Linked DNA regions of Homo sapiens. The protein of the gene in region 4 interacts with the protein of the main gene of each other region in a pairwise test. Each region holds a gene or a part of one and is shown on either strand. Other genes may lie near its edges. The genes, in order: KRTAP4-1, HINFP, MAL, NPDC1, CPT1A, PLSCR1 and FHL5.

What was found.
Region 1: the proteins of NPDC1 (region 4) and KRTAP4-1 interact in binary tests that used the Homo sapiens proteins (3 or more experiments, as listed by UniProt).
Region 2: the proteins of NPDC1 (region 4) and HINFP interact in a two-hybrid assay, tested with the Homo sapiens proteins (one study listed by BioGRID).
Region 3: the proteins of NPDC1 (region 4) and MAL interact in binary tests that used the Homo sapiens proteins (3 or more experiments, as listed by UniProt).
Region 5: the proteins of NPDC1 (region 4) and CPT1A interact in a two-hybrid assay, tested with the Homo sapiens proteins (one large-scale study listed by BioGRID and IntAct).
Region 6: the proteins of NPDC1 (region 4) and PLSCR1 interact in a two-hybrid assay, tested with the Homo sapiens proteins (one large-scale study listed by BioGRID and IntAct).
Region 7: the proteins of NPDC1 (region 4) and FHL5 interact in binary tests that used the Homo sapiens proteins (3 or more experiments, as listed by UniProt).

What each region holds. Positions count from the first base shown.
Region 1 is NC_000017.11:41,183,035-41,186,506, forward strand, and holds KRTAP4-1 (keratin-associated protein 4-1), read right to left. Parts: upstream 1,878-3,472; 5' UTR 1,821-1,877; coding exon 1,380-1,820; 3' UTR 1,066-1,379; downstream 1-1,065. UniProt on the Homo sapiens protein: In the hair cortex, hair keratin intermediate filaments are embedded in an interfilamentous matrix, consisting of hair keratin-associated proteins (KRTAP), which are essential for the formation of a rigid and resistant hair shaft through their extensive disulfide bond cross-linking with abundant cysteine residues of hair keratins.
Region 2 is NC_000011.10:119,127,607-119,131,830, reverse strand, and holds part of HINFP (histone H4 transcription factor), read right to left. Parts: intron 3,481-4,224; exon of another isoform or gene 3,383-3,480; intron 1,176-3,382; coding exon of another isoform or gene 1,107-1,175; coding exon 877-1,106; intron 297-876; coding exon 185-296; intron 2-184; coding exon 1-1. UniProt on the Homo sapiens protein: Transcriptional repressor that binds to the consensus sequence 5'-CGGACGTT-3' and to the RB1 promoter. Transcriptional activator that promotes histone H4 gene transcription at the G1/S phase transition in conjunction with NPAT.
Region 3 is NC_000002.12:95,046,008-95,050,231, reverse strand, and holds part of MAL (myelin and lymphocyte protein), read right to left. Parts: exon of another isoform or gene 4,085-4,224; intron 3,718-4,084; exon of another isoform or gene 3,454-3,717; intron 2,957-3,453; exon of another isoform or gene 2,274-2,956; coding exon 2,106-2,273; intron 652-2,105; coding exon 526-651; intron 1-525. UniProt on the Homo sapiens protein: May be involved in vesicular trafficking from the Golgi apparatus to the cell membrane. Plays a role in the maintenance of the myelin sheath, and in axon-glia and glia-glia interactions.
Region 4 is NC_000009.12:137,038,701-137,043,639, forward strand, and holds the end of NPDC1 (neural proliferation differentiation and control protein 1 precursor), read right to left. Parts: intron 4,374-4,939; coding exon 4,227-4,373; intron 2,488-4,226; coding exon 2,362-2,487; intron 2,285-2,361; coding exon 2,114-2,284; intron 2,038-2,113; coding exon 1,971-2,037; intron 1,899-1,970; coding exon 1,814-1,898; intron 1,737-1,813; coding exon 1,657-1,736; intron 1,368-1,656; coding exon 1,271-1,367; intron 1,165-1,270; coding exon 1,072-1,164; 3' UTR 763-1,071; downstream 1-762. UniProt on the Homo sapiens protein: Suppresses oncogenic transformation in neural and non-neural cells and down-regulates neural cell proliferation. Might be involved in transcriptional regulation.
Region 5 is NC_000011.10:68,775,788-68,780,011, reverse strand, and holds part of CPT1A (carnitine O-palmitoyltransferase 1, liver isoform), read left to right. Parts: intron 1-4,224. UniProt on the Homo sapiens protein: Catalyzes the transfer of the acyl group of long-chain fatty acid-CoA conjugates onto carnitine, an essential step for the mitochondrial uptake of long-chain fatty acids and their subsequent beta-oxidation in the mitochondrion.
Region 6 is NC_000003.12:146,520,370-146,524,593, forward strand, and holds part of PLSCR1 (phospholipid scramblase 1), read right to left. Parts: intron 1,685-4,224; coding exon 1,464-1,684; intron 1,337-1,463; coding exon 1,175-1,336; intron 1-1,174. UniProt on the Homo sapiens protein: Catalyzes calcium-induced ATP-independent rapid bidirectional and non-specific movement of phospholipids (lipid scrambling or lipid flip-flop) between the inner and outer leaflet of the plasma membrane resulting in collapse of the phospholipid asymmetry which leads to phosphatidylserine externalization on the cell surface.
Region 7 is NC_000006.12:96,600,716-96,604,939, reverse strand, and holds part of FHL5 (four and a half LIM domains protein 5), read right to left. Parts: intron 3,888-4,224; exon of another isoform or gene 3,788-3,887; intron 1,339-3,787; 5' UTR 1,327-1,338; coding exon 1,168-1,326; intron 191-1,167; coding exon 16-190; intron 1-15. UniProt on the Homo sapiens protein: May be involved in the regulation of spermatogenesis. Stimulates CREM transcriptional activity in a phosphorylation-independent manner.

The DNA.
Region 1 (3,472 bases), on a different chromosome or scaffold from region 4:
AGAATATTATTTCCCCATTTTAGAACATCTATAATTTTTTTGGTCCTTTCCTGAGGATAATTTTTATTCTATTAAATCCTGTATTTTGCTCAAGTATATTTTTTTTTCATGTGGAAGTGACATCAGGCAGAATAAGCAAAGCCATGTGGCTACAGGAGACATATGGTTTGCTTGTCTGAATATGACCAAGTTTACCTGAGATACAAGAAAGCTGTAGAGTCTAAGCATATCCCGAGAGTGCATTCTTAGCTCACAGCTTAAAATTACAGCCTGAGTCCTTCTCTTTTACAACTCTATCATTGCCTACCATTCAAACCCTTACCCAACTCCTCCCTGACTCTTCCCCAAAGAGGATATTCCCTTGTCCTTGTGTGGCTCCATCTTTGACTAAGAGCTTTCTCATTTGCCTATGACTTTTAGTATAGTACCATTAACATAGAGGTGATGGGATGAGGCCAGTGAGGTTTAACTTCCACCAAATTTGGTCAACACCAACTGTTTCTTAGCTCATCTCAGTCTTGTCCTCATAAGAATGTAAACATTTTCCTATATTTTCCTCCTCTTCATTTCATGGGTCTGTGACCTGCACATCTTCCCTGTACCAACTTAACTCATTCTATTATTAAATGTGTGTATATGTATATTCCTAATGTCTTACTCTTCCCCAAGACAGAAAGTTCTCCTCTGATCAGTACTACCCAGCACAATCTATCTACTTTGCTCTTTCCTCTTATTTCCAAGATTAGACGGTGAGCTCCTTTTAGGAAGCTCCTGTGCCTCACATATCTTGATGTGATCTCCAGAGCCCAACAGTGCAATGAACATGACAGATGATCAATAATTTCATTGACTGAATAAGAAACTTTTGTTAGTTAAATACAGCGAGTTATCTTATTTTGAAAAATTTATGAAGTCCTTTCTATAATATAAGCATTACATTATATTTACAAAATCAGTTTTCTTTCCTGGTCGTGGTAACCCAAATTTGTCTTTATCTTGAGAGAAGTAATGCTAAAAAATAAACTGACAACTAATTCTCAAAAAAATTGAAAAAAGAGAAAAGAATTACTGATATTAAGATAATATTTATTGAAGAACAGTTAATATGTAATTTTGAAGGTCAAATCAAGCATAACAGTCAGAAACTTAGAGGCTTAGTCTAACTGCATCATGCATCTGAGGTCTGAATGCTGCTGGGAAGAGATCCATGGGAAAAATGAGTGGTATTAAATGTAGATGGATGCCCTTTCACCAGTTACTTAGTGGAATAACAGGATAATAAAGCTGATGGCCATTTAACACATGGACAAGTTGATATAAATGACACTTTCATATCATGGGATGGTGACTGGCTCATGGTTGATAGTCCAATATGAGGTTCAACAAGAGGATCCACAGCAGCTGGGGCGGCAGCAAGTTGCACGGCAGCAGGTGGTCTGACAGCAGAGTGGACGGCAGCAGCTGGACACACCACAGCTGGGGCGGCAGGTGGTCTGACAACAGAGTGGACGGCAGCAGCTGGACATACCACAGCTGGGGTGGCAGGTGGTCTGACAGCAGAGTGGGCGGCAGCAGCTGGACACACCACAGCTGGGGCGGCAGGTGGTCTGACAACAGACTGGGTGGCAGCAGCTGGGGCGACAGCAAGTGGTCTGGCAGCAGGTAGTCTGAGAGCAGGATGGGCGGCAGCAGCTGGATACAACACAGCTGGGGCAGCAACAGGTGGTCTGGCAGCAGCTGGGGCGGCAGCAGGTCTCTTGGCAGAGGCCTTGATCACAGCCCTGGTCAGAGCAGACAGAGCCACAACAAGAGTTAACCATGGTGTCAGAGGGTGGAGGTTCTAGGTAGGTTTCCAAGACAGTGAGTTTTTCGAATGTGGGAATCTCCTTATCCCATGTCCACTTTTATACTCAGCTGAGGAGCTGTTGTCACCACATAAAAGCTATTTCCTTGTTATTGTTTATCTTAATAGATAGGCAATTATCAAGTTAGCTAATTGTGGGAAAATATCTGTATAAAAGGTGGAATGCACTTTTATTCTTTCTCTGTGTTAGAGTTTAGCCAATCCAGTCTTTCCTCCTCCTCTTGTCTTCAGTTAATTTAGTGTGTCATTTAATTTCAAAGACTTGTAATCTTACTCATCCAGTCGATTGTCAGGTGACAGATCACTTGGAACTCAGCATTCTGTGTGTCATCCTGAAAACTGTGTGTCTCACAGCAGTCCTCAAATGGGATGATGTTTCTTGTTTTCTGAAGATTCTTCTGAGAAAAATAAACTGTGAAACAACTAGAAGAAAACAGCAGAAATTGTCTTAAAATATTAGAAGTGGAGTGGATTTTCTAATACAGAAAAACTTAACAACAATGAAGAAAAAGATTGAAAAAAATTTACAACAGAAAAAAACTCAAATGCCTGATTGAAAAACAAGAAGGCTAAAGAGTAAGCTGAAAATAAATAATAATACCTTAACCAATCTACAAATAAATGAGCTAATTTTCTTAATCCATGAATACCTCTTACAACCCAATGAGAAAAACAACAACAACAACAACCAAACAGAAAATTGAGTAAAGGATATTAACAGTGATTTCACTAAAAAAAGAAATTTAAGTGCCTTTTGAGCTTCTGAAAGATGTTTAGTCTCACTCATAATTTAAGGTATTTTAATTGAACAACTTATTCACTCATCAAACCATCTACCGAATACCTACTGTGTGCCAGGTTCTACTGCATGCTCTCGGGATATGGCAGTGAATACTTGCTATTTGTAATGACAAATGTAAAATATTTAAGTTTAAAAACTTTAATAAATTGGTGAAATTATAAAGACATTGACATTTTAATACACAGTTGGCAGGGATCTAAATTGAGGCAACTTCTTTAGATGGTAATTAACAGAATCTGAAATTTAACAGTATCTTAAATTAATTTAGCATATTTTGAAATGTGCGTGTGTTTTGATTGAGCCTTTTCACTTCTAGAAATGTATTCAACAGATGCACCTATACATACCTTCCAAGATGTAAGTTCAAGGGTATTCTTTGCAACATTGTTTGCAAGAATAAAGCCTGATTTTAAATTCTATTGTGTTTACGGAGGGGAAAGCCCTTGATGTAGGCAACACACACTAGTGCTCAGAGGCAGTGAAGCATCACTTTCTTTTTATCACCAAAGAAACCTCTTTGACCTATTCTTGCAATTTTTCTATAAGTGCAAGACGACATTAATTTTTAAAAAAAGAAATTAAGAATGTTATCTCTTTAGGCCATCCCTATCCCATGCAGACACCTACTTTCTATTTAGACTGAGTTATTCAGGAAGGAGGGAAGAGGGGATGGAAGGAAGGATACAAGAACATATTTAGAATATATTTTTATGGACATATTTTATGACTATTTGGGGTATATATAAAAATTATGAAAATTCAGTTCGTTAGGCATAAAATGGCATAAAAATATCCATTGTGTCTAA
Region 2 (4,224 bases), on a different chromosome or scaffold from region 4:
CCTGGGAAGGAAGCCCTATCAGTCTCCTGCCACAAAACCCCAGTTTTGCCTAGGATCTGGTACCCCTGAGTCTCTCCAGCCGGCAGTCAACCTTGCCCCTGTAGGACCCCTATCCCTTTCTGTCCCAGCTCTTCAGGAACCCCAGCGTTTCCTCCAGAAGCCACAAGTTAAGAAGCAGCCCTACCTTTCCAGCCACACAGCACCACCGGGTTGTCCTTGCCGACTGCTTCGTATTCACAGCACAGACTGTGTGCTTCCACATGCCGATAAAACCACTCAGGATTGTCGAAGGAATTCTGTGCCAGGGGCAACTTGGGGTGAGGACTGAGGGTGGGTAGAGGGACTCACCCCTATGTGCCCGAAGAATTCTTGGCTCTCTCCCAAATTAACTTGATGGGGATGGGAAATTTTGAGGAAAGGCACTGCACAGAAATGGAGGAGTGGCCGGGTGCGGTTGCTAAACCCTGTAATCCCAGCACTTTGAGAGGCTGAGGCAGGAGAATCACTTGAGGCCAAGAGTTCGAGACCGGCCTGGGCAACACACCCAGACCTTGTCTCTACAAAAAATTTAGAAGTTAGCAGGGCATGGTGGTACATGCCTGTAGTCCTAGCTACTTGGGAGGCTGAGGTGGGAGGATTGCTTGAGCCCAGGAGTTCAAGGTTACAGTGAGCTATGATTGTACCACTGCACTCTAGCCTGGGCTTCAGATCAAGAGCCTGTGTGTAAAAAATAAACAAATTTTAAAAGAGCAAAAGAAATGGAAGAGAGATACTAGCAGGAATCTTGGAAATATAAGGCATCCCTGAAAGGGACAAGGCATCAGAGTTAAGACCCCCAGCTTCCTTCCACCCCAATTACTGGCACTGCCTGCTGACCTCACAGTGCTCCCACAGACACAGGAAGTGGTCAGGGATATCAGGGATGACGTTCCGGCTCTGGAAGTCCAGGATGCAGGGGCCAAGGTCAGCCTGGCTTTGCAAGGCCTGCAGCCCCCACTGTTTCAGCTTGGTGTGGTAGCAGTGGAAGTAGACATGGCGGATGAGGTCAGCAGAACTGTCCAGAGAACAAAAGCCACATTCCTGCCACAAGCAGGAGAATTCTTCCTCTGTAGAAAGGGGTTTAAAAGGAAGAGTCTGACACTTTCCAAGGCTCAGGTCACCTTCCACCTGCAGCACTAAACAGAGAGTGAGGAGGCTGGACTCGTGAGGAGGCTGGACTCTAACCAAATTACCAGGGTTCATTTAGCAAATACCAGTATTTAATGACCATAAATTGTGTGCCAGTTAGAGGGACTATAACAAGTAAAAAGTGTCCCACTCCTTGCCCTCACATAGCTTTCAGTCAGGGAGAAAGCATATTCATCAAATAATCAGATCTATAAATATAAAACTGCAACCAGTGATGAGTGTTACAAAGCGGGGATATACATGGTGCTATAAAAGCATTAAACAGAGGTCATTTGACATGGTGTTCTGAGAAACGTCCCCATGTTGAACTCTGAAGTACGATGGATGAGTATCTGTAAATAGGTGAAGAAGTGTGGTCTAGGCAGAGGTGAGAGTGTGTGCAAGGCCTATGCCAGAAACAGACAGCAGAAATGGCCGGCACGCAAGTCCTCTGACTTGAGTTTCTGCAGTTCCTGATGAAGATGCTGCCTCTCGATCTGACACCTCCCACTTCTCCTTGTAAAACCACCACTCCTCCTTCCCCTCATGTTTTGCTCAAGATCTGCCTTCTCCAAGAAGGCCCCATCAACTCTTCCAATCCATTTCCTATCTCTCTAGCATCCCTAAGCACTGTATTTTCAGCGCTTTATATAAGTTAACTTGTTTTGAAACACAGATACTTTAGAAAATATAATCATTCCCCAATTTTGCCTTTGTATAAATATGACTTGAATTTTGAAACTATCAATTATGGTTCATAGTCATCAGACTTAAAACAGAATTTGGGGTGGGAGAAGGAGAGCTGCCTCCATATTTCCTGTAGAATAGAGTTTTTCAGACTGTGTTGTGACCCACTAGTGGGTTAGGAAATCAGTTCAGTGAACTATCAACCACATTTTGGGCCGGGTGCGGTGGCTCACGCCTGTAATCCCAGCACTTTGGGAGGCCGAGGCAGACAGATCACGAGGTCAGGAGATCGAGACCATCCTGGCTAACACAGTCAAACCCCGTCTCTACTAAAAAATACAAAAAAAAATTAGCTGGGCTTGGTGGTGGGCGCCTGTAGTCCCAGCTATTTGGGAGGCTGAGGCAGGAGAGTGGCATGAACCCGGGAGGCGGACCTTGCAGTGAGCGGAGATCGAGCCACTGCACTCCCACAAAAAAAAAAAAAAAGAAAAGAAAAATGTATTCCTGCCAGATGCAGTGGCTTATGCTTATAGTCCCAGCTGCTCAGCATGCTGAGGCAGGAGGATCACTTGAGGCCAAGAGTTTAAGATCAACCTGGTAACATAGCAAGACTCTGTCTCTAAAAAAAAAGTGGCTTTGGTCGGGCGCAGTGGCTCACGCCTGTAATCCCAACACTTTGGGAGGCCGAGGCAGGCAGATCACAAGGTCAGGAGTTTGGGACCAGCCTGGCCAATATGGTGAAATCCTGTCTCTACTAAAAATACAAAAATTACCCGGGCGTGGTGGCGGGCACCTGTAATCTCAGCTACTTGGGAGGCTGAAGCAGGAGAATCACTTGAACCCGGGAGGCGGAGGTTGCAATTAGCCGAGATCATGCCATTGCACTCTAGCCTGAGCAACAGAGTAAGACTCCATCTTACTCTGAAAAAAAGTTTTTTTTTTCCTTTTTCTTTTAAATCCTGCCACACTTATTAGTACCGTGACTTTGGGCAAGTTATTTTATTCCTCTGTGCCTCCGTTTCCTTATTTGTAAAATGGGTATAATAATAGTGCCTATCCCATCCTGGCTAACACAGTGAAACCCCGTCTCTACTAAAAATACAAAAAAAAATTAGCTGGGCATAGTGGCATGTGCCTGTAATCCCAGCTACTCGGGAGGCTGAGGCAGTAGAATTGCTTGAACCTGGGAGGTGGAGGTTGCAGTGAGCTGAGATCGCACCACCACACTCCAGCCTGGCGACAGAGCAAGACTCCATCTAAAAATAATAATAATAAATAATAATAATAATAGTGCCTATCTCATAGGCTCTTTGGGAAATAGTGCTTTAATGTAGGTTTAAAAAAGTACTGGCCGGGCATGGTGGCTCACGTCTATAATCCCAGCACTTTGGGAGGCTGAGGCGGGCGGATCACCTGAGGTCAGGAGTTCAAGACCAGGCTGGCCAACAGGGGCATCCTGGCTAACATGGTGAAAGCCTGTCTCTACTAAAAATACAAAAAAAAATTAGACGGGCGTAGTGGCACGCACCTGTAATCCCAGCTACTCGGGAGGCTGAGGCAGAAGAATCGCTTGAACCGAGGAGGCAGAGGTTGCAGTGAGCCGAGATTGCACCACTGCACTACAGCCTGGGCAACAAGAATGAGACTCCATCTCAAAAAAAAAATAAAGTACCCAGCAATACTTAACACACAGTAGGTACTATAGAATACAGTTCACTATTGTTATTGTTTTCAGATTGGATTTTATTAAAATCCCAGTTATTTGCTATTGATAAAAGGCATACCTAAAACATAAGTCAGACAAAGGTTAAAAAGTGAGAGATGGGGCCAGGTGCGGTGGCTCACGCCTGTAATCCCAGCACTTTGGGAGGCCGAGGTGGGCGGATCATGAGATCAAGAGATTGAGACCATCCTGGCCAACATGGTGAAACCCCATCTCTACTAAAAGTACAAAAATTAGTTGGGCGTGGTGGCGCGCGCCTGTAGTCCCAGCTACAAGAGGCTGAGGCAGGAGAATTGCTTGAACCTGGGAGGCAAAGGCTGCAGTGAGCCGAGATCGAACCATTGCACTCCAACCTGGCAACAGAGCAAGACTCCGTCTCAAAAAAAAAAAAAAAAATTGGAAGGTGGGAGTGGGGTTGGACTTGGTGGCACAAGCCAATAGTCCCAGCTACTTAGGAGGCTAAGGTAGGAGGATTGCTCGAGGCCAGGAGTTTGAGATCAGTGGGCAACATAAGCAAGATCCTGTCTCTAAAAAAAATTTTTTTAAAAATTGGCGTGTGGTGGTGGTACATGCCTGCAGTCCTAACTACTCGGGAGGTTGAGGCAGGAGGATCCCTTGAGTGTTGAAGGCTGCAGTGAGCTATGATC
Region 3 (4,224 bases), on a different chromosome or scaffold from region 4:
ATGCTTCAATGGACGACCACTTGGGGAGAGTCAGGAGACCCATGAGGTCAGACTCACAGCCCCAAACTGGTGCTGAGAGTGTGGGGACTGGGCCTCCAGCGTTGATGCCAGGTCCCACAATGACTGGTGATCTTGGGCCAGTCACACTCTCTGGCCCCACTTCTCCATCTGTGAGATGGGTGTCATAATCCTGGGTTGTAGGGTTGCCATGGATGTTAAATAAGATTGTTCAGGGAGCACTCGGACAGGGCGCTGGGCAGCCGCATCCCCTCACACATCTGCCCTCTGCAAAGCCCACGCAGGCCTGGGGCATGCAGCCCTGGCCGGACGACTAAGCGGAGTCTTGGGCACAACATGACACTGCCCTTCTCGGGGGCTTTCCTGCTCCAGGCATGAAGGCAAGGTTTGACCTCACTCAAAAGTTAGTGAACTGAAAACAGACCAAGGGCCTAGGCAGCCTCCACACACACCCTGCCAGCCACGGAGCCGCCCGCTGTGGACACAGCCCCAGGTGCCCGGACTCACCACGGCAGCAATGTTTTCATGGTAGTGCCTGTAGGTGAAGCCGTCTTGCATCGTGATGGTGGCCAGGGCCTCCAGGACTGAGGCGCTGAGGTAAAAGAGGGCAGCGGTGCAGTGGTAGGCTGCGTCCTATGGGGCAGACGGGGTGTCAGAGGGATGGGGAGAGAGAGACGGGGCCCAGATGCAGAGCTGAGGTCCCCTCCACCCCCGCCCCTTGCCTCTCCCCCCACTTCCTTTGAATCCCACCCCTCCCAACCTTGTCACGGAGGTCCCATGCCTGCCCTGCTGTGCTGAGTCTCACTTCACTGCTGTGGGGCCAGAGTGAGCACTTTGCTGGGGATGGGACACTGGTCTCCCCTGAGGAAGGGTCAAGGGAGAGGTGGAGGAAGGGCCAGCAGCTTGGGGTGTCCCAGGGAAAAGCTGGTCCTGGATCTGAGAAGTGTCGTGCATGGCCACAGTCCAGGTTGGGTGTGGCCTCGCTGACCAGTGCAGGGTGAGGGAGGACCATGCTGTTTCTTTCGTTTTGTTTTGTTTTGTTTTGTTTTGTTTCATTGCTTATTTTTGGCCCCTGGTATATTTAAAAGCAAAAAAGGGCTGGGCGTGGTGGCTCATGACTGTAATCCTAGAGCTTTGGGAGATTGGTGCAGGAGGATCTCTTGAGGCCAGGACTTGAGACCAGCCTGGGAAACATAGTTAGATCCCCATTTCTACACAAAACAATACATCTTAGCTGGGTGTGGTGGCACATGCCTGTAGTCCCAGCTACTCAGGAGGCTGTGGCAGGACGATCACTTGAGCCTGGGAGGTTGAGGCTGCAGTGAGATGAGATTGCGCCACTGCACTCCAGCCTGGGTGACAGAATGAGACCCCCAACTCAAAATAAAGTAATAAATGAAAGCAAAAAGGTACTAAAACAGGGTTTTGTGTAGTTGTGATTTGGAAGTGATTTCAAAAGTCTAAGTAGCAGAGCTTTTGAGAGTGACAGCCTTGGCCAAATGGCCCCACCACCCCTACAGCAGGTAACAGGCAAGTGTCCTACATGTAAAAGTTACCTTTTCATGGGTCTCAAAGCAGAATTTATACAGAATAATGACCAAAGGCCGCTTCTGTTTCCCAGTGCTCTCTGGCAGCCCTGCTTGGAAGGCAGTGGCTGAGGAGCTGGACAGTAAGCATGGCCTGACCCTCAGAGCCAGGGCCAATTTCTGGAGCCCAACACCTTGGTCGGCCTCTGGGGCCCTGCTGCCTTGAGGTGAAAACAGCCCTTGCAGGTGATGGGAGGGGCAGGCAGGCACCTGGCGGGTACAGGTGGTGTGGGGGCTGGGCAGCTGGTTATCCATGGAAAGGCAGTCATGCAGGAGAACACAGAACAGGTCCAGTGAGGGTTGGCAGCGGCGACCTTGCCTCTGCCCCTGCCTCTCCTGATTCTGCTGCCAGGAGCCCTGGGCAGGCTCAGCCTTGGAACATGGTGGGGTGACATCTACGGAGAAGTCTCACCTGGCACTGGAAAAGCCCATCCTACTGGGCCAGGGACCAGTACTTCCTGCGCCCCCCTACAACCAGCAGCCACCCTGGGCTGGACTCACCAAGGTGACCCAGGAAGTCTCTCCACCGTGGGCTCCAATTATGTACAGGATGATCAAGGTGGTGGTGGCCACGAAGCAGAACACAGACACGAACATCACCCAGCCCTGGACCAGGGGCCAGGGCACCAGGGAGGAGGCCACCAGGATCCACACCAGGCCCCCGAAGATCTGCGGGGGAGGAGGAGGGGTGAGTTTTGGCCTAGAGGAGAGCCCCAGCCCAGGAAGGGCCCCCGACCAGCGGTCACATGGGGTGACTGGAGTGCAAAAACACAGGAAGCAGGCAAAGAGAACAGGGCAGGCATTTTCCTCTGCAAAAATGCATCTTTAGTCCCCCCAGGGCCCTGTGCTGGATCTCAATCCCAATCCCCGGCACGCTTGCCCTGATTAACTTTTTAAAACTTTTTTTTCTTGAGACAGAGTCTTGCTCTGTCACCCAGGCGTGAGTACAGTGGCGTGTGGCTCACTGCAACCTCTGCCTCCTGGGTTCAAGTGATTCTCATGCCTCAGCTTCCTGAGTAGCTGGGATTACAGGTGCATGCCACCATGCCCAGCTAATTTTTCTATTTTTGGTAGAGACGGGGTTTCACCATGTTGGCCAGGCTGGTCTTGAACTCCTGACCTCAGGTGATCTGCCCTCCTCAGCCTCCCAAAGGGTTGGGATTACAGGCGTGAGCCACTGCACCTGGCCTGAGTAACTTTTTAAATATGGGTTTAATTTTTTTATTTAACAAACACTTATATCAGACCTACATTCCAGGCACTATCCTAAGCACTTTACAAATAATAACTCAGTGATTCTCACAGTAACCCTCTGAGCAATGCTGACCTGTTTGCCAGATGAGGAAACTGAGGTAGGTGGAAGTTAAGTAATTCATCATTCTGAGAAAGGATTTATGCCATTTGGTATTGTCATGAGAAGAGCTGCTATTTCTTCTGATATTCTAGCCCTCCTACTTGCTTTGATATTAAAATGTCCTTTCCTTTATGCAATGGTAGTGACCAGCAGATCTTTTTGGTCTTTATTTGGCAAAACAAATTAACCACACTGTCAGTAGTCCCCTGCCCTGCCCTTCCTTTCTTTCTCTCTCTCTCTTTCCTTCATTTCTTCTTCCCTCCCTCCCTCTCCTTCCTTCCTTCTTTTTCTTTCTTTCTTTCTTCTTTCTTTCTTTCTTTTTTCTCTTTCTTTCTTTCTCTTTCTCTCTTTCTTTCTCTCTCTTTCTCTCTCTCTCTTTCTTTTCTCTCTCTCTCTCCCTTTCTCTTTCTCTCTCTCTCTCCCTTTCTCTTTCTCTCTCTTTCTTTCTCTTGCTCATTATTTCTTTTTCTGGATTCAACTGTTTATATTCCCAAGTCCAGGAAGTGTTCTGATGATCAGATTTGGAGTTGGAATGGAGTAACCAAGGACAGCCTTGTCTCTTTGGATGGCTGAGGATGGGCATGAGGAAAGTACAGTCCCGTGGTTATCCAGAATACACCCCAGTTGATGTCGCCAGGGTCAGTGAGCCCCATACAGTCAAAGAGGAGCAGACATGGGGGCCAGTAGCACCCCTCAGTAGCCCAGCCCCGCTCCTCGCCGTGGATGGACACATACAAACCCGCTCCCCACCGCGGATGGGTACGTACAAACTCCGTTCCTCACTGTGGACAGGCGTGTACAAACCCCAGCGGGGACTTTCTGCACTTCTCTTTCCCTTCTCCTCATCTCCCCCAGCGCCACCCCCACCCAGTAAGAATCAGCTCAGCCTCATCCACATGTTCCCCACTTGGATGAGGACTGGGCTCGAAGCACTCCAGGCCTATGTGGAGATTCCTTTGCAGCCAAAAGTCTCCAAGGTACTACAGAAGTGTCTGGGGGGCTGAGGATGGGGCTGCCCTCCCAGGCCTATGTCCCCTGTGGTTTGAATTCACATAGCACCTTGACCCCCCCACCTCCCTGCACCTGCTGCCCACCTGCTGGGTGAGAGATACCGCTGTCTTCACAGGTGTTCTCTGAGCTGCTTGACTGAGAAGCAATCAGGAGAGAATTGCATTTGGGTAGAAAAATCAGTGCAATGAAGACTTTGGATTTATTAAAACCAAGTTGTCCCTAAGGAATCAGATGTGGGCATCTCTGACCAGAAAG
Region 4 (4,939 bases):
TGGACCTCCAGACTCCTAACAACCACTGAGGGGCTTCTGAACCCAGTCCTCCTACGTCCCCAGCATCAGTGGGACAGAGAGTTTCAGCCCCCGCACGCTGACCTGGTACTGGCCTGATCTGGGCACTTTTGACCACATGATTCCCCTTCCTCCCTCGGGGCCTTCTTGCTCCAAATTTAGGAGTGGCCAAGTCCCAGCTCCAGGCGTCCAGGCCCCTCCCATCACACCCCTCACCTGGCCCCCTGGGTCCACCTGGCTCTGCATAGCTGGTATCACACAGGTACCTCTGCCTGCCATCCCTCCTCCGTGTGCTGCAGGGCCTGGCGGCCGTGGTCCCCATGAGAAACCCAGACTCAATGTCTGCATTGTTTTCCTTCTGCCTGGAGGTGGTGGGCACCCACATCCAGGTGCGTGTGGACTATCACCTGCTCCAGCCCTCTTTATCACACAGGATGGGGTCTTCCGGGCCGCAGAGCCAACCCTGGGCTGGCCCAGCCCTACACTACACCCTTCCCCTCTCCCACCTGCGTAGAAGGGTCTGCAGGGGTGAGGCCTGGCTGAGGAGGGTGGGGATGATCCCGTGGCCTCTCCTCCAGCTCCACGGGATGGGAAGGTCCTCCTAATGAGCGAACAGAAAGGCCTCCTCCCTCTGGGGGTGCAAGAGCAGACCCCAGGCCCCCCACTCAGGGGTCCGTCTACCAGGGCCCCAAATGGGAGATGAGGCGGTGGAAGATTAACCCAAGCTGGCAACACAGGCAGAAGCCGCAGGTCTGAAATGGACTTTAATTGGCTTTTGTCTCTAGAATTACCCACCCGTTCCTGCGCTCTACGGTTCTCCATGCCCCCTCCAGTTTGGGGGTCTAAACCGAACAGGAGAGGTGCAGGGGACCAGGAGGTGTCCTGGCACAAAGGTTCGGGGGTCTCCCTGGCAAGGGGTCCCAGGGCCTGGAGCCCGAGGCCCAGCCAAAAGCACACAGCATCAAAACATGTTTTTAGTGGGAAGCTCCAGGCCCTGCCCCTCCCCGGGGGCCTCGAGGTCGGGGAGCAGGTGGGCGTCTGTCTGCCTCCAGGTCATGGCAGTGCAGGCGGTGAGCTGGGGGCCGGCAGGGGCGCGGACAGTGCGGCGTGGTCGAACAGAGGGTTGCGCACCTCCATTTCCCCGGTCTGCGAATGTGGGTGTCAGGCTGGGCAGTGGGTGGGCTGGGGGGATACTTGCTGGGAGGGAACCCCAGGAGATGGTTCGCCCCTCCCTGCACCCTGAGGCACTCACCGGGGCCAGGCCCGGGCACTCGTACACCGTGAAGTCTCCGTCCTCATTCTCCTCATCCGAGGAGGCCGTGTCCAGCTCCTTGGGTGGCTCTTTATGCCTGGGTGGGGGGGGATCGCTGGGTCCTCCCCATGCCCTCGAGGTGCCAGTGGCCCAGTCTGGAAGTGGGCACTCAGCCCACCTCAGCCCTGGGGTGGCAGGGGAGCACAGCCCAGGGTGAAGTTGGCCAGGGGAGGTGAGGGTGCAGGGCGGCGGGGGAGGTGAAGGTTAGCGTGCAGGTGAGGGTGGCAGGGCCTGGGGTAAAGTTGGCCAGGGGAGGTGGAAATGGAGGTGGAGGTGGGGATGGGGGGTGGGTGGGTGGGGGTGGCAGTGCCGGGGCGGCCACTCACCGCTCCAGGCACAGCATCTGTTGCCGTTGGTGCTGGTAGTGGTACATCTCCGCGCTCTGTGCCAGCCGCTGGTCCCCAGGCTGTGGGAAGGAGGAGGCGAGGGTCAGTTGGCGGCCAGAGTTGGGCGGGAGCCTCAGGGCTGAAGGGGGCCACACACCGAGATCCGGGGAGCTGCAGGTGAGCCAGGGGCCTTCGCAGTGGCGTAGTCGGCCTTCTGAGTCAGGCGGATCTCACGCTGCAGCCTGTGGGGAGTGGGGCCTGAGACCTCTGAGCGTGTGGCACCCTCCCTGCCCTGCCCGCGGCCACTGGCTCACCTGCACCAGCAGAGGGAGGCTACGGAGAGGGCGGCTGCACCGGCCACACAGAACGCCAGGATCAGCACTGCAGGAGGGGGCGTGTGAGGGCGGCCTTCTGCAGGGCGCCCTGCTGCCCCTGCCCACCCCCGACCAAGACCTACCAAGGGCGAGGCCGTCGCCTTGCCCTCCCCGGGGCTCCAGGGGCGACATGTGCACCGGGTCGGATGACACAGGGGAGCCCAGGGAGGTGTGGGGCGTGGGCGTGGGGGTTCCTGGAGTGGAGGGGAGGCCCAGCTCCAGCCCCTGCCCCCGTGCCGAGAAGCCCAGGGTGGCTGCGAGAGAGGACAGGTTAGAATGAGAGCACTGGGCTAGGGACAGGGCCGTGGGGCAGGGGAAGCGGGGGTCTCACCAGGCTCCGGGAGCCGCTGTCGGTCCTTGGGTAGGGGCGGAGTTGAGTGTCCAGACTCCTTCCGGGCAAGCTCCTGGGCCAGGAAGTCAATCTCATCTTCCAGTCTGGGCTGGGGCCGGCCCCCGCCTGGGGAGGGTGAGGGGCCATCAGGTGGAGGGGTCCGTCCAGGAGGTAGCCCCAGGCCCGGCCTCCCCGCTTCTGGCAGGTTCCTCCCAGGAGCCTGAGGACTGGGTACACGCCTGGAGGCCCTCTCCCTCCCAGATTGCCATGGTGACAGCGCGGGCGCTTCCTGTGAGGGGCAGTGCTTCCCGGAAAGTGGAGGCAGGGCAAGGGAGGAGGCGCTAGGGAAACGTCCAAAGACCGGGCACGGGGAGGAAGGAGTGGGGTCTCTCGCCCCAACCCATGTCCATAAAGGGCTGGCCAGCACAGCCCCTTCTGCTTCCCCACCTCCAAGCACCTTCTCGGGTAGAGGGGCAGGGACTCCCCAAGGAGTGGGGGGAAGCCGAAGGAAGCCAAGCACCCGGGACCCCTCCCCAGGTCATTGGGAGAACGGGGGCAGCTGTCAGGGGTGGGGCTGGTGGCAGGGCTCCACCGGTACCCACTGTGGGCTGCACAGTCTGGGTGGACGCTCCCAGGTTGGCAGGAGGTGCATCCACACAGACCCTTACAGCCACTTCTCGGTGCTCCTCTCAACACCTCCTCCAGGAAGCCGCTGCTGCTCCCACCCCCAGCACCTCTGAGCAAAGCCCTCACCACACCTGAAGTCACTCAGTGACTGGCCATCCCGACAGATGCGGCTCAGGCTGGCGAGCGGGGCATCCCCAGCACCCAGCCAGTGCTGGCACCCTTCAACATTTGCCAACAGGCGGACAGGACAGTGAGTGGTGGAAAAGAGCAAGCTGCCTGGGGACGGGGAAGTGGGGGCCTGGAGGGCTTCTGGGCAGACCCTGCAGAGCCCAGGCCCGGGGAGAATGGGCCCTTCCTCTCCCGTGGCCATCCCAGCATTTCACATCGTGCAGCCCTTCTCCTGGGAGGGCCTGACTGCCCCAGGCCTGGGCCCACCTCCATTTGGAAAGGATGGGAGGCTTCGTGGAGAGTGAATGAGGATCTCCCAGGCCTTGGACCCAACACCCCACAAGGTCCAGGGGCCCCAAGACCACCTGGCACAGGCCTGGGCATTGAGGCTGCAGGCTGCTGCTTTTTTTTTTTTGAGGCGGAGTCTCGCTCTGCCGCCCAGGCTGGAGTGCAGTGGCGCGATCTCGGCTCACTGCAAGCTCTGCCTCCCGGGTTCACGCCATTCTCCTGCCTTAGCTTCCCGAGTAGCTGGGACTACAGGCGCCCGCCGCCACGCCCGGCTAATTTTGTTTTTGTATTTTTAGTACAGATGGGGTTTCACCGTGTTAGCCAGGATGGTCTCGATCTCCTGACCTTATGATGTGCCCGCCTCGGCCTCCCAAAGTGCTGGGATTACAGGCGTGAGCCACTGCTCCCGGCCTTCTTTTTTTTTTTTTTTTTTTTTGAGACAGAGTCTCGCACTGTCGCCCAGGCTGGAGTGCAGTGGTGAATCGGCTCACTGCAAGCTCCGCCTCCCGGGTTAAAGCAATTCTCCTGCCTCAGCCTCCTGAGTAGCTGGGACTACAGGTGTGTGCCACCACACCCGGCTACTTTGTATTTTTAGTAGAGACGGGGTTTCACCATGTTGGCCAGGCTGGTCTTGAACTCCTGACCTCATGAGATCCAACAGCCTGGGCCTCCCACAGTGCTGGGATTACAGGCATGAGCCACCGCGCCCAGCCGGCCGCTTCTTACAGGGAGAGGTTCATGCAGGGACATCCCCCCATCGACTTCCCCCTTTGCTCTCGTACCTGGAGGCCGGCGCATCCTGGGCACACAGAGCCCTTGCTGGTCCTCCTGGAAGGGCTGAAGGCAGGGCCCACAGGCATGTGCACCAGGAGGACACCTTGCCCGCCTCTTCAGGGCACAGTCCAGGCTCCCGGGACAGGCGGCTACATCTGGGAAGGAAGCAGAAGGCAGGGCCGGCTCACGGCCCCGCAGGGCTCGGCCCCTGCACACGGCAGCGCTGCCCCAGCCACCCGCCCCCGTCACCCCCCGAGCTGGCCGGGCCTGGTTCTGGCCATTGTTCTGGACATGCCCTTCCTCCCTGACGCCAGGGCTCAGAACCCGGAAGCGAACAGTCCTAGGACTTATCAGAACTACCCTGCCCCACCCCTCCCCAGGGTCCACTTCCAGGCCTGATAGAGCCCTCAGCTCAGAAGCTGAGTCTCGCCGTCCAGGCAGTGCTGAGTTCTCCTGGGCAGGGCCGTGCAGCCCCACAAGCCCAGCCTCCGGCCTCAACATGCCCCACAGCAAGCCAGGAACCCCGTCCAGATTGGGAGTCCCAGAGGGAAGGGCCCAGGTCTGTCTCTGGGGAGCAGCAAACGATGCCGCCAGCGACCTCTCCTTCCCGTGCGGCTCTCCCCAGAACCCGGCACTGACAAGTGTGCAGCCTGGAAGGGATGCTGCTCCTCCAGCCTCTGGCTTGTCCCCCAGGCACCGAGGACACCTAAGATGGAGTCTG
Region 5 (4,224 bases), on a different chromosome or scaffold from region 4:
ATGTGCTGGATTTCCTAGTGTTTCCTACCTACCGCATTTTTTAGGCCAAATAGAAGCAAGCATGTGAAAATCTGGGTTTATAAACATGCAGCGTGTCTTTTACCTAAGACATCATTTTAATTCTTAAAATTACCAGGTTATTTGAAAACCACAAACCCCTGTCCCCCTGCCTGCACCTGTGGATTGGCCTCTACCATTGTTTTTTTTTTTTTTTTTGAGACAGGGTCTTACTCTGTCACCCAGACTGGAGTGCAGTGGCACAATCATAGCTCACTGTAGCCTTGACCGCCCAGGCTCAAGACATTCTCCCACCCCAGCCTCCCAAGTAGCTGGGACTACAGGTGTGTGCCACCATGCCCAGCTAATTTTTGTATTTTTTGTAGAAACAAGGTTTCCCCATGTTGCCCAGGCTGGTCTTGAACTCCTGGGCACAGGGGATCTGCCTGCCTGGGCCTCCCAAAGTGCTGGGATTACAGATGGGAGCCACCACACTCAGCCTTTTTTTTTTTTTTTTTTTTTTAATAATTCGTTACTCTGAACTGTTTGACCTGTTCCGTGTTTGGCATGAGAAATTAAATGAAAGTTTTGTTTCCTTAACTCACCGGTCAGGTTCTTGTTTAAAGTTGCTAAATTCTAGGATCATCATCCGTAGACTTGACACAGAAAATACTGTGGTCACTTGTTGTGATGAGACTTGAGATCTTTTTCTTTTAAAGCAACAAGCCCCTTTGAGATTCACATTGACTATAAAGACCATCTTTTTGCAGTGTTTTAAATTTTCCTGCTGGCCTAATAAATGAAGTGGAATAAAATGACCTGAAAGTCACGGCGTGTGTGGGAGACAGGGCCCAGCTGCAGGCTGAGCACCTCGCTGTTCTTGATAGGGCATGGAGCCGGGTTTGTGTGTCTGAAATTAGAAATTAGTAGTGGCCAGGCGCGGTGGCTCACGCCTGTAATCCCAGCCCTTTGGGAGGCCGAGGCAGGCGGATCACGAGGTCAGGAGAACGAGACCATCCTGGCTAACACGGTGAAACCCCGTCTCTACTAAAAATACAAAAATTAGCCGGGCGTGGTGGCTGGCACCTGTAGTCCCAGCTACTCAGGAGGCTGAGGCAGGAGAATGGCGTGAACCCGGGAGGCAGAGCTTGCAGTGAGCCGAGATCACGCCACTGCACTCCAGCCTGGACGAAAGAGTGAGACTCCATCTCAAAAAAAAAAGAAAGAAATTAGTAGTAAACTTGTGAAGACATCATAATGTATGACCTTCTTTTTTCTTTAAACTTCTGTGAATGTTTTGAATTTTGACTTTTTTTTTTGAGATGGCGTCTTGTTCTGTCACCCAGGCTGGTGTGCAGTGGTGCGATTTCAGCTCACTGCCACCTCTGCCTCCCCGGTTCAAGTGATTCTCCTGCCTCAGCCTCCCGAGTAGCTGGGATTATAGGCACATGCCACCATGCCCGGATAATTTTTATATATATATAAACCTGACCTCAAGTGATCCACCCGCCTTGGCCTCTCAAAGTGCTGGGATTATGGCATGAGCCACCACGCCTGGCCTTGACGTTTCTTTTTATAATATTGTGTCTGTCTATTTTTCCCCCAAGAGATAAACAAATTCTGGTGCCAGTTTTTTCTTGCAAAGTCTTCGCACTCACTCTCCTCTCTGCCTGGAAGGCTTTTCCCCCTGGCTTCCCCTGGCTCCTGGCCCCGTCAGGTCTTCCTTAGGTCTCAGCTGACCTCACTTCCCCTAGGAATGGCACTGCCCTGCTACCCTCTCCCAAGACTAGGTTAGGGGCTCCTGTCTCATCTTCCTCTACCTCTTTTAATTGTCTTACTTCTGGTTGGAGTCTTGGCAAAACCTCCAGCCACTCCTTCAGCCAAGGGAGGTTTTCTATGTAGGAAAAAGGATAAAAAGGAAAAAAAAAAACATAGTGCTCTAGGCTTTAAGACACCAGTATGACCCTAGGACATTAATACCTGATAAAAAGCAGCCAATATTAAAAGGGCTTTTCACCACCACCAGGGTTCTTTGGCGATGTCGACAAAAGCTGAGAGAGCCTTTTAGCTACAGAGCGCATTGAAGATCAAGCTGCCTTCAGTGTCTCTGGACGTAGCAAGAAGGCACGCTTTAATAAATCTCTGCACAGCATAATAGCCCGGGCTTGTTATACCCCAGGCCAAGGACTTCCCGAGTCCTATATGCCTAAGAGCTGTTGTTTGGCAAAAGAAAAAGAGTCGGGACCATAGGCAGCTGGATCACACAGGGTACATTTATCAAGTAGAGAAATCTACTGGATATTTACAAGATCAGGCTTGTTTTTTAAAGTTCTCTGGATAAGGATAAAGGGATTTTATCTTAGACCAGGGTGGGCACGTAGAAGTAGTGGTGTTTAGTTGTTAGCGTCCAGCAGACAGGATGGCCTGACTCCAGGGACCCCTGGCTGGGGGCTTATGTGATCCATACACAGATGGGGACTGACCTAGTCTCACATGGGGGCCCAGTGCAGTCCCTTAAAGACAGATCTAGTCAAACTTGAGTCTGTTTGTTCTTGTTCTTGTTCTATTTTTATTTTTTATTTTTTGAGACAGGGTCTTGCTCTGCCACCCAGGCTGGAGGGCAGTGGTGCAATCTCAGCTCACTGCAACCTCCAACTCCTGGGTTCAAGTAATTTTCCCACCTCAGCCTCCCGAGTAGCTGGGACCACAGGTGTGCGCCACCACGCCCAGCTGATTTTTGTATTTTTTGTAGAGACGGGGTTTTGCCACATTGCCCAGGCTGGTCTCGAACTCCTGGCTTCAAACAATCTGCCTGCCTCAGCCTCCCAACATGCTGGGATTACTAACATGAGCCACCACACCCGGTCTTGCTCTTGATTTATTTCTGATGTTTCTGTGTCAGGCTCTTCTGGAGCTCTGACCCAGAGCAGGTGGAACCTGATCAAGTCTGTTCGTTCGCTGGCTCAGGTCAGCCTGGATTGTGACCCCCACGTATTAGCGGCACCTTCCACCCGCCCCGCCGCCTCGCCAGCCGACAGTCACCCCGACCTTGTGTTGTTGTTTTTACCTCCCTCACTAGAATGTAAGCTTCCTGAGCACAGGGATTCCTCTTTTAAAAAAACTTAATTTTTTTAGTTGAGATATAAGTCACATACCTTAAAATCCACCCTTTAAAAGTGTACAATTCAGTGGTTTTTAGTATATTCACGAGGTGCTTGTGCAACAGTCACTGCTTAGCCTCCCGAGTAGCTGGGATTACAGGCGTGCATCGCCACACCCACCTAATTTTTGTATTTTTGGTAGAGGCGGGGTTTCCCCTTGTTGGCCAGCTTGGTCTCGAACTCCTGACCTAAAGTGATCTACCCGCCTTGGCCTCCCAAAGTGCTAGGATTACAGTCGTGAGTCACAGAGCCCAGCCTAATTCTGTACTATTTTTATCACCTCCAAAAGAAATCCCTCATTCCTTTCTCCCCCAGGTTCCTGATGACCACTAATCTTTCTGTGTGTATGTATGTGCCTATTTTGGACATCTTATATAGATAGAATCATACAATATGTGGTCTTCTATGTCTGGCTTCTTTTTTCTTTTCTTTCGCTTTCTTTTCTTTCTTTTCTAGAGACAGGGTCTTGCTCTGTCGCTCAGGCTGGAGTGCAGTGGCACAGTCATGACTCATTGAAACCATGACCTCCTGGGCTCAGGTGATCTTCCCACCTCAGCCTCCTCAGTAACTGGGACTACAGCCATGTGCCACCACACCTGGCTAATTTTTAAAATTTCTTGTAGAGATAAGATCTCACTATGTTGCCCAGCTGGTTTGGAACTCCTGGCCTCCAGCAATCCTCCCACCTTGGCCTCCCAAAGTGCTGGGATTACTGAAGTGAGGCACCGCGCCTGCCTGCTTCTTTTCACTCAGCATAATGTTTTCAAGGTTCAGTACGTTGTAACACATACCTGGAATTCATTCCTTTCTAGGGCTGGATAATATCTCATTGTATGGATTGACCACACTTTGTTTATCTCTTCATCAGTTGATGGGCATTTGTGTTGTTTCCACTCTTTGGCTATTATGAATAATGCTGCTCTGAACATTCTGTACAAGTTTTTGTGTGAGCATCTATTCATTTCATTTCAGTGAGTATGTACCTAGGAGTGGAACTGCTGGGTCATACAGGTATATTTCACTTTTTAAGGAAGGGCAAGAATTCTTGTCTGTTTTGTTCACAAAA
Region 6 (4,224 bases), on a different chromosome or scaffold from region 4:
CCTTGAATGAGAAATTACTTTTCACTTCTCTGGATGTAGGACAGAGATTCCATCCCTTACATGAAGAACTGCTATTATGCATACCCTTACATAAAATTTTTATACATGCATATTATGCACACATATACATACACACATTATATAATCCCCTTATAAGAGCCTTTTTAAAGTTTCTATATCACATCCTCCTTAGAACTGCAAATCTCTGTCATTAGATTATGAAGTCAATGGGGGAAAGGATTCATCTTTATATAGCTAAAGTCTGACGGAGGAATAAAATACCATGTGATTAAAGAAGGCAGGCAGATCACATAAATGAATGACACTGGATATTGAAAAACCTCAGTAAGGGGTGGAGACAGTGGTAGAGTTCCCATGTCATTATTACAAGGGGCAGCCCCACACATCTTTAGTAGATTTTTACCCTTTTGTTGGAAAGGTGGGCCCAGTTAACCCAATTTTCTGATTTTCCAAGAGAAACAAGAAATCAAGATTAAGTTATAAAACCTTCTGATTTTTAAACATTTGCAATGAAAAAATTTGGATTGTAAAAGTAGACCATCTGTTGTTGAAGAGCTACTCTAATGAAATTCTACAATGTATTACAGTAAATATACAAATATTAATATGTTGCAGCTTCTAGTGACCTAATTTAATATAGGGAAAAGGAGAGACCACAGAGAAGCATAACTGGGTAGTACATATTATACTAATTTTCTCAAAACTATCTTTGCATAATTGGGCTTCTTGTAGGAATTCAAAGATGTCAGACATTCTGAACATGGCCTTGAGCATTGGCAGATGATATTTCAGATTTAAGAAGGATCCATATGCTTTGGCAATCAGACTTAGATGGCAAGGTTAACGTTCTGTTTAAAATGGATAATATACAGTGTCATCACATAGAAACCACCACGTTTAAGTGAGGGATGATTTGCTTATTTTTATTTGACTACATAGGTCTGCTTCTTTTTTTTCCATTTCTCATGACCAACAGTGACCTTTAATCAGAGTGATAACTACCACTCTGCCCAAAGTTAAATAAATGAGAAAATCATCTTGCTATTGAGACATTGGCACACAACACTTATTTAATGCATTTATAATGTCCTGCAAAATTACATTCTTCTTATATTAGGAAAGCAAATCTTATAAACATTATGACATCTCTTACCTCAAAATCAACATCTCCACAACAGCTGCACACAACACATGGACCACTTATTTTTAGTACATCCTCTCTTTTCTCATTTTGAATTGTAAACTTTGGTAGACATGGGTGCCAAGTCTGAATAACATAACCTATTGGTACACCAGGAGGAGCTTGGATTTCTATCTACAAAGGCAAAATAATATATGTAAATGTAATAATCATAATGCCTAGGTTCGATGAAAGGTTCAATGACAGGGCAGAAATTCTTGCTGAACTATTTTACAAAGTGCCCTGGTAATTGATCACAGACCTCCTGAAGGCAGCAGGGACAACAACAGCTGCTACATCTTAGTGGTCTCTCCAGAGTTATGACTTCTTGACCCATATTATCAATAATCCTCAAGGTAAAAGGTCTAGATGGCCCACAGCAATTTCGGGTACAGCAATCAGTATCTTCCGCTGCAAAGTAAACCCTCTGTCCAAAGCTGTTCTTAATTTCATATTTGTTATTAGTTTCAAAACCTGTTAAAACTAAAAACATAAAAGACGAAATCATAATCACCTCTATGTTAAAAATATTGAATTTATCCAGATATTATAATATCTAGCTATGCCAGTTTTTGATGATACCCCAAGTGGCATAAGGAGGAGAAGAAATGATGTTTAGAGATGATCCAGACAGAGAAAAATGGCAAAAAAAAGGAGAGATTACCAATGTATAGAGAAATTAAGTCCTTATGCCGTGGGGAAAAGAGAGATCAGATTGTTACCATGTCTGTGTAGAAAGAAGTAGACATAAGAGACTCCATTTTGTTCTGTACTAAGAAAAATTTTTCTGCCTTGAGATGCTGTTAATCTGTAACCCTACCCCCCACCCTGTGCTCCCTGAAACATGTGCTGTGTCAATTTAGGGTTAAATGGATTAAGGGCTGTGCAGGATGTGCTTTGTTAAACAAATGCTTGAAGGCAGCATGCTTGTTAAGAGTCATCACCACTCCCTAATCTCAAGTACCCAGGGACACAAAACACTGTGGAAGGCCACAGGGACCTCTGCCTAGGAAAGCCAGGTATTGTCCAAGGTTTCTCCCCATGTGATAGTCTGAAATATGGCCTCCTGGGAAGGGAAAGACCTGACCGTCCACCAGTCCGACACCCGTAAAGGGTCTGCACTGAGGGGGATTAGTAAAAGAGGAAGGAACGCGTCTTTGCAGTTGAGATAAGAGGAAGGTATCTGTCTCCTGCTCGTCCCTGGGCAATGGAACGTCTAGGTGTAAAGCCCAATTGTATATTCCATCTACTGAGATAGGGGAAAACTGCCTTAGGGCTGGAGGTGGGACGTGCTGGCAGCAATACTGCTCTTTAAGGCATTGAGATGTTTATGTATATGCACATCAAAAGCACAGCACCTTTTTCTTTACCTTTTTATGATGCAGAGACATTTGTTCACGTGTTTACATGCTGACCTTCTCCCCACTATTATCCTATTGTCCTGCCACATCCCCCTCTCCGGGAAACGCCCGATAATGATCAATAAATACTAAGGGAACTCAGAGGCCGGTGCTGGCGCGGGTCCTCCGTATGCTGAATGCCAGTCCCCTGGGCCCATTTTTCTTTCTCTATACTTTGTCTCTGTGTCTTTTCTTTTCCAAGTCTCTCGTTCCGCCTAACAAGAAACACCCACAAGTGTGGAGGGGCAACCCATCCCTTCATTATGTGAGACACTGGAAACAAGTTATATTTTCCTAATTCCATAAATGTCTGTCAGAAGAGAGACTTTTCTGCTGAGAGTTGGGGCAATGCTGTGGGTGGGCACGGTGGTGCTAGGTGTATAGATAAAATGTCCACTAATGCAGGATAGTTTATGTGTAATGTGGAGGGGAATATAAGAGGATTGCTGTTTATGTGCTATGAAATTTTATATTAAATCAATTGGTTTGAGACTGTCTTATAAACCTTACTTATGTCTTATTTTTTTGCAATGCTTTTGAAAGAAGGCAATGTACACGCATAAAAACCGAGGGAGTAAAAATGAAAGATGAATTAGAATGTCACATTGGACCCAGGGCATCCTTATTCAACTCAACAGTAGTTGTTCAGAAGTGGGAGGTGGGTATTAGACAAACGTGTTCGGCAACCAAGGCTTCAACTCACAGAATATCTAGACCGTGGGAATCCTAAGTGAACTCTGCACCTTTGCTGGGCTAATCTATCTTCATGAGGGAAACAGATGGCTGCAAAATGCTGACACTCACATACTTTGTATCAAGGGCTTTCCATATCTAACCATACATTGGAAACCTCTCCATATTTAAAGCCAGAAAGGAGCAATAACTGTCCCATTTGTACATAGTCCTCAGTAACTGGGGTCATAGATGTCAGAAGCCTGGCTAAAATAATGAGTGATTAAAATAAATATATGGAGGAAAAGTCACTCTATAATGCCTATGTGGAAAGACTCTGAGTCGGATAAAGACGGCCTTCACAAGTCTTACCACCATGAACTCCTTTAAGTGTCCTTGGTGGGACACAGACAGACCCTGTACTCTGCATTTATAGGAACAACGTCTGATTTCAACATCTGAAATAGTCAAATGTTTGATGAGAAAAAAGTTAAGCTGATTTTGAGAGGACATTCATTATCTAATTAATTGTTACATTAAGTAGCTTAATCTCAAAAATCTCCAGCTTATTTGTAAAACAACATTGGTTTACATAACCTTTAAGTTTCTTTTCATTTACTTTAAAAATGTAAACAAATTGTTTATATTTTTATTGTCTTCTGTGTTTTGAATTGAGAAAAAAAAGTAAGTGCCTAGTTTATGCTCAGATTCTAAAAACCTGAGTAATCTTCATCTTTTTTATACCACTCATGAAAAAATAACATAGACTTTCAATTTTGGAGAAAAAGAAACAAAAAAAAAACTGGAGACATTTCTTTTTTGAAAAATAAGCATAATTAAAAACTGTTAGATTTGGAACTTTCTATTTCATAATTAACACATATTTAACAAATATTTATAAAGCCTATAAATCTACAAAAAAAGATAAATAGTGTGCTGTGTAATGTTTGG
Region 7 (4,224 bases), on a different chromosome or scaffold from region 4:
CCCTTGAGACCCTACCAGGCATGATGGTCCTCTTGCAGTGGAAGCACTTGGAGGAGCACTCGTTAGAATAGCACTCCGTGCACAGCAGGCGCTCATCCTTGGCAGCAAAAGGCTTTTCCACCAAAGAGTGATTGCATTTGGTGCACTTGAAGCATCCTTCATGCCAGTGCCGGTCTTTGTAACAAAGATCCTTTGAGACAGTAAATAAAAGTTAATTAAATGTGGTTGTGACAATACAGGCCATTTTATGAAACAAAACTGAACACTCCTGGGACTCTCATGTCAGTAGGTTGTGCTAGTAGCGTGAGGGAAAGTTGTTACTGAAACTGTTACCCATAGAGAGGAGACTCTCTGGGGTAATTAAGAGCTAGAGCCCAGGGCTTTCTTGGTGGGTCACTTAAGGCAGCTGGGAAAAAACAAATACATTCTCTGCTGTGTCTTCAAAATTTGCCTATATTCTTTTTATAAACTATAATAGAGGTTTTTCATGGAATGATTTTTAAAAATTTTAGGGTGCAATGTTCTATTACTCTTTGAGATGTAACTAAACAGACAAAAAATAACATCACCTAAGTAAAACAAAGGCAGAAAGAGGGAAGAAAGAGACAGAGAGAGAGAGAGAGAGAGAGAGAAAGAGAGAGGAAAATAATCGGAGGATGGAAGGAAGAAAAGAAGAAAGAAAGAAAGAAAGAAAGAATAAGCATGTCGGAGGAAGGGGTGGTAGGTGTGAGAGGTATCAATAGGGTTTAGTAAGAAATGAAGCTGATTTTACATCAGAAAACAGATTTTGAATCCTTTCAACTTCAATTCTTTATGCATTTATTTATACCCTTGTCATTCCAGAAATAACAAACACACCCAGAAGGTTACTGAGAGCTTGGAAACAGCAGGAAAATTCTAGCTGTGTAACTTTGGACAAATAGCTTAACCCCTTTAATCTTTAGCATTCTCAGCTACCTTAGAAGATCATGTGAGGATTAAGCATATGTTGTATTTCATAGTGCTAAGTGTAGTGGCTGGAGCTTGACTGCTGGTAACTTTTAAGATCCTTATATATCCAGTAGCAGAGAAATAGTGTTGAAAGTCAACACTAAATGAAAAGAGGCACTCCAACCCACTTGTTTGCTGTTCATAGGCAGTAATTCTGTAAATTGAGGTGAGACTTACCTTAGAATCAGATTCAATTGGTTTTTTGCATTCCTCGCAATAGTTAGAAAATACACGATCATAACATGTAACACAGTATGGACTGTCATCCTTTAGTACATATTTCTTCCCAAGAAGTGATGCTGTGCAGTATTGACAGTAAAAGTGAGCAGTTGTCATTTTGGTTTGATCCTATGAATGACAAAGTGATTAATGTATATAAAAGCAGAATTTTGTTTATAGGATAAATGATGAAACCTTAATATAATGTGAGTGAAGCATTTGAATGAACTTATATTTTCTTAAGCAAAAATCCCCCAATTTAGGAAAGTATGCTTATAGTCATGGTGACATTTGGAGTGATTTAGGAAAGATTACTCTCCCATCTTGGCAGTTCCCTGTATGTTTTGCTAAAAAAAAATGCATAAAACCTGCATCTAGATTATGAAAAACATCTTGTGTTTATCATAAGCTAATGTGGAATTCAATGAGAATATGGTATCTGTTGAAACAGGATGGTTTTACCTCAAGGATATAAACTGTTGCTAGGGCTTTTAATAACTATCATCACTTACTTTCTTGCTGGAAAATTCTAGAGGCAGATTTTGATGGAAATAACAGTCTTTTTTACTCAAATATAAATTAATAATCAGTACATTGTCATTTTCTAGTTCATTCTTTTACTCCTCAAGTCTTTACTGAATACCTAATAAGGGCTCTGCACATTTACCCTGAGGTCTTCGTGTACTACATCCCCTCCTTGGCTGTGGCTTCCACCATCCCAAATGTGCTGATGACTCCAAAATCTCTGTTTTCTGCTAGCTTTAGATATCTTCATTTAAATGTCCTTTACCAAACTGGCCAAATAAAACTCCTCAGCAGGTAGGATTCTCAGACCAAGTGCTAGGTCTTTGTGACTATTGTGAACAATTGCCCAGATGCAGAAGTGCAGATAAAATCATCAGTGGTAGAAAACAACAATGGGTTCCTTCAGGCTTTAGGGCCAAAGTAACATGTATAGAGCATAAATAATAGCAGCAGCTATTCCATTATAGCTATGGATAAAATAGCTAGAATTCATCTGCAAGGCAAAATGCATTCTGTAAGATGAATAAAAAAGCTGATATGAAACATAAAGCCAGTGATAGATAAGGACTCTGATTGTTTTGTAAATTTGGAAAGCCATTAAGAAACAATGCACAGCCTGTAGTCCCAGCTACTCGGGAGGCTGAGGCAGAAGAATGGCGTGAACCCGGGAGGCGGAGCTTGCAGTGAGCCGAGATTGTGCCACTGCACTCCAGCCTGGGCGACAGAGCCAGACTCCGTCTCAAAAAAAAAAAAAAAAAAAAAAAAAAAAAAAAAAAAAAGAAACAACGCATATAGATTTCCAGGTTTTAATTAGGCATTGAACATGAATTCTTTGTTGTTACAAAAAAAAATTAGCACTGCTTTTCCTTGGAAAATGAGATTTGTCATCTCAGGGTTTACTGGAATATATTAGGAGCTTTGAATATTTTCTAATTCTCCCCCCACATAATTTTTCTTTTAATTTTAGCAAAATCAGAGGAGCAATTAACGATAATACAACAGAGTTTTTGATACTAGTTTGTACTGACTACATTTGAACTCTTATTCTCATGCGTTTTGCCTTATTCTAGTGATGAAATTCCCAGCAGAGAGCCTTGCTGAATGCACATGATTATTAATTCTGTACATAGCAGTTTTGCTATATTGTTCTTCACTAACAAGTAGAGAAAAGGCAGAGGATTTGGAATATGTGGGTCTTTTCCCAGGAAAGAGATGAAATGCAGACTAGAAAGTTCGCAATGGAACATGGCCAAAATTATCTAAAAGGAACATTGAATTCTCCATTTGATTAATTCCACAGAAATGTTCCTTCCTAGTGAATACAAACACACTCAGAGGGTTACCGAAGGCTTGGAAACAGCAGGAAAATAGATCTAATTCCCTTGAAAGGTTTAAAAATAAAAGTTGTATTCACATTTACAGCGATCAAGTGTTTGTCACTTTATAGAAATAAAATATGTACCTTTAACTCTCTTCACTTAATATGGAAAACGTCGTTTTCATTAATATTTATTTTAGTTTTAGATGTGTATAATAGCATCATGAAACACGGCCCCTCAGGGGTTAGGAACTGCAGTCTACTGCCATTTTGTGAGGCTTTTAGTGTATTATAAAATGAATATATAAAACATATAAAACCACAAAAGGGATTACCAAATTGATAATATTTCAATTGTTTATTTTAAATGACACTTTAAACATGACAACATCAAAATACCTGTAACTTATTTAGTGATCAGATCAGAAGTCTAAATATAAGACAAGACGGTCCTTCTCCCACCCCAGTCCTAATTACATAACAGGCCTGGATCCACAGAAAATGCCTTACAATATAGACCATATTTCTTAATTTTTTGTTTTGTTTTGTTTTTTGAGACAGAGTCCTGCTCTATTGCCCAGGCTGGAGTGCTGTGGTGTGATCTCGGCTCACTGCAACCTCTACTTCCCGGGTTCAAGCCATTCTCCTGCCTCAGCCTCCTGAGTAGCTGGGACTACAGGCTCATGCCACCGTGCCTGGCTAATTTTTGTATTTTTAGTAGATATGGGATTTTACCGTGTTGGCCAGGATGGTCTCAATCTCCTGACCTCAAGATCCGCTCACCTCGGCCTCCCGAAGTGCTGGGATTACAGGCGTGAGCCACCGCGCCTGGCCTCTGGAAAGAAGAAATTCACTTCTTATTCAATTCTGTTTTGTAAAAGCAACATCAGGGAGTTGGGTAGGGTGAGAACAGAATCAGTCTAATATCTCAAAACCTTGTGATTTTATACTTGTAGGACTATACAGTGGGAGGAAGCATTTGGTTCAGGTCAACATTTCTTGAATATTTACTTAGTGATTTGAACTCCCTGCCCACTCAAGGAGTCTGGATTATCTTATAGCTCGTATCTTAGTAATAGTTAATGTAATTTGAGGTAAGTGAGCAAACTGAATGTTTATCCTCTTCTTCTTGGTTAGAAAAAATACACTAAGAAATTCATTCCTCATTTTCA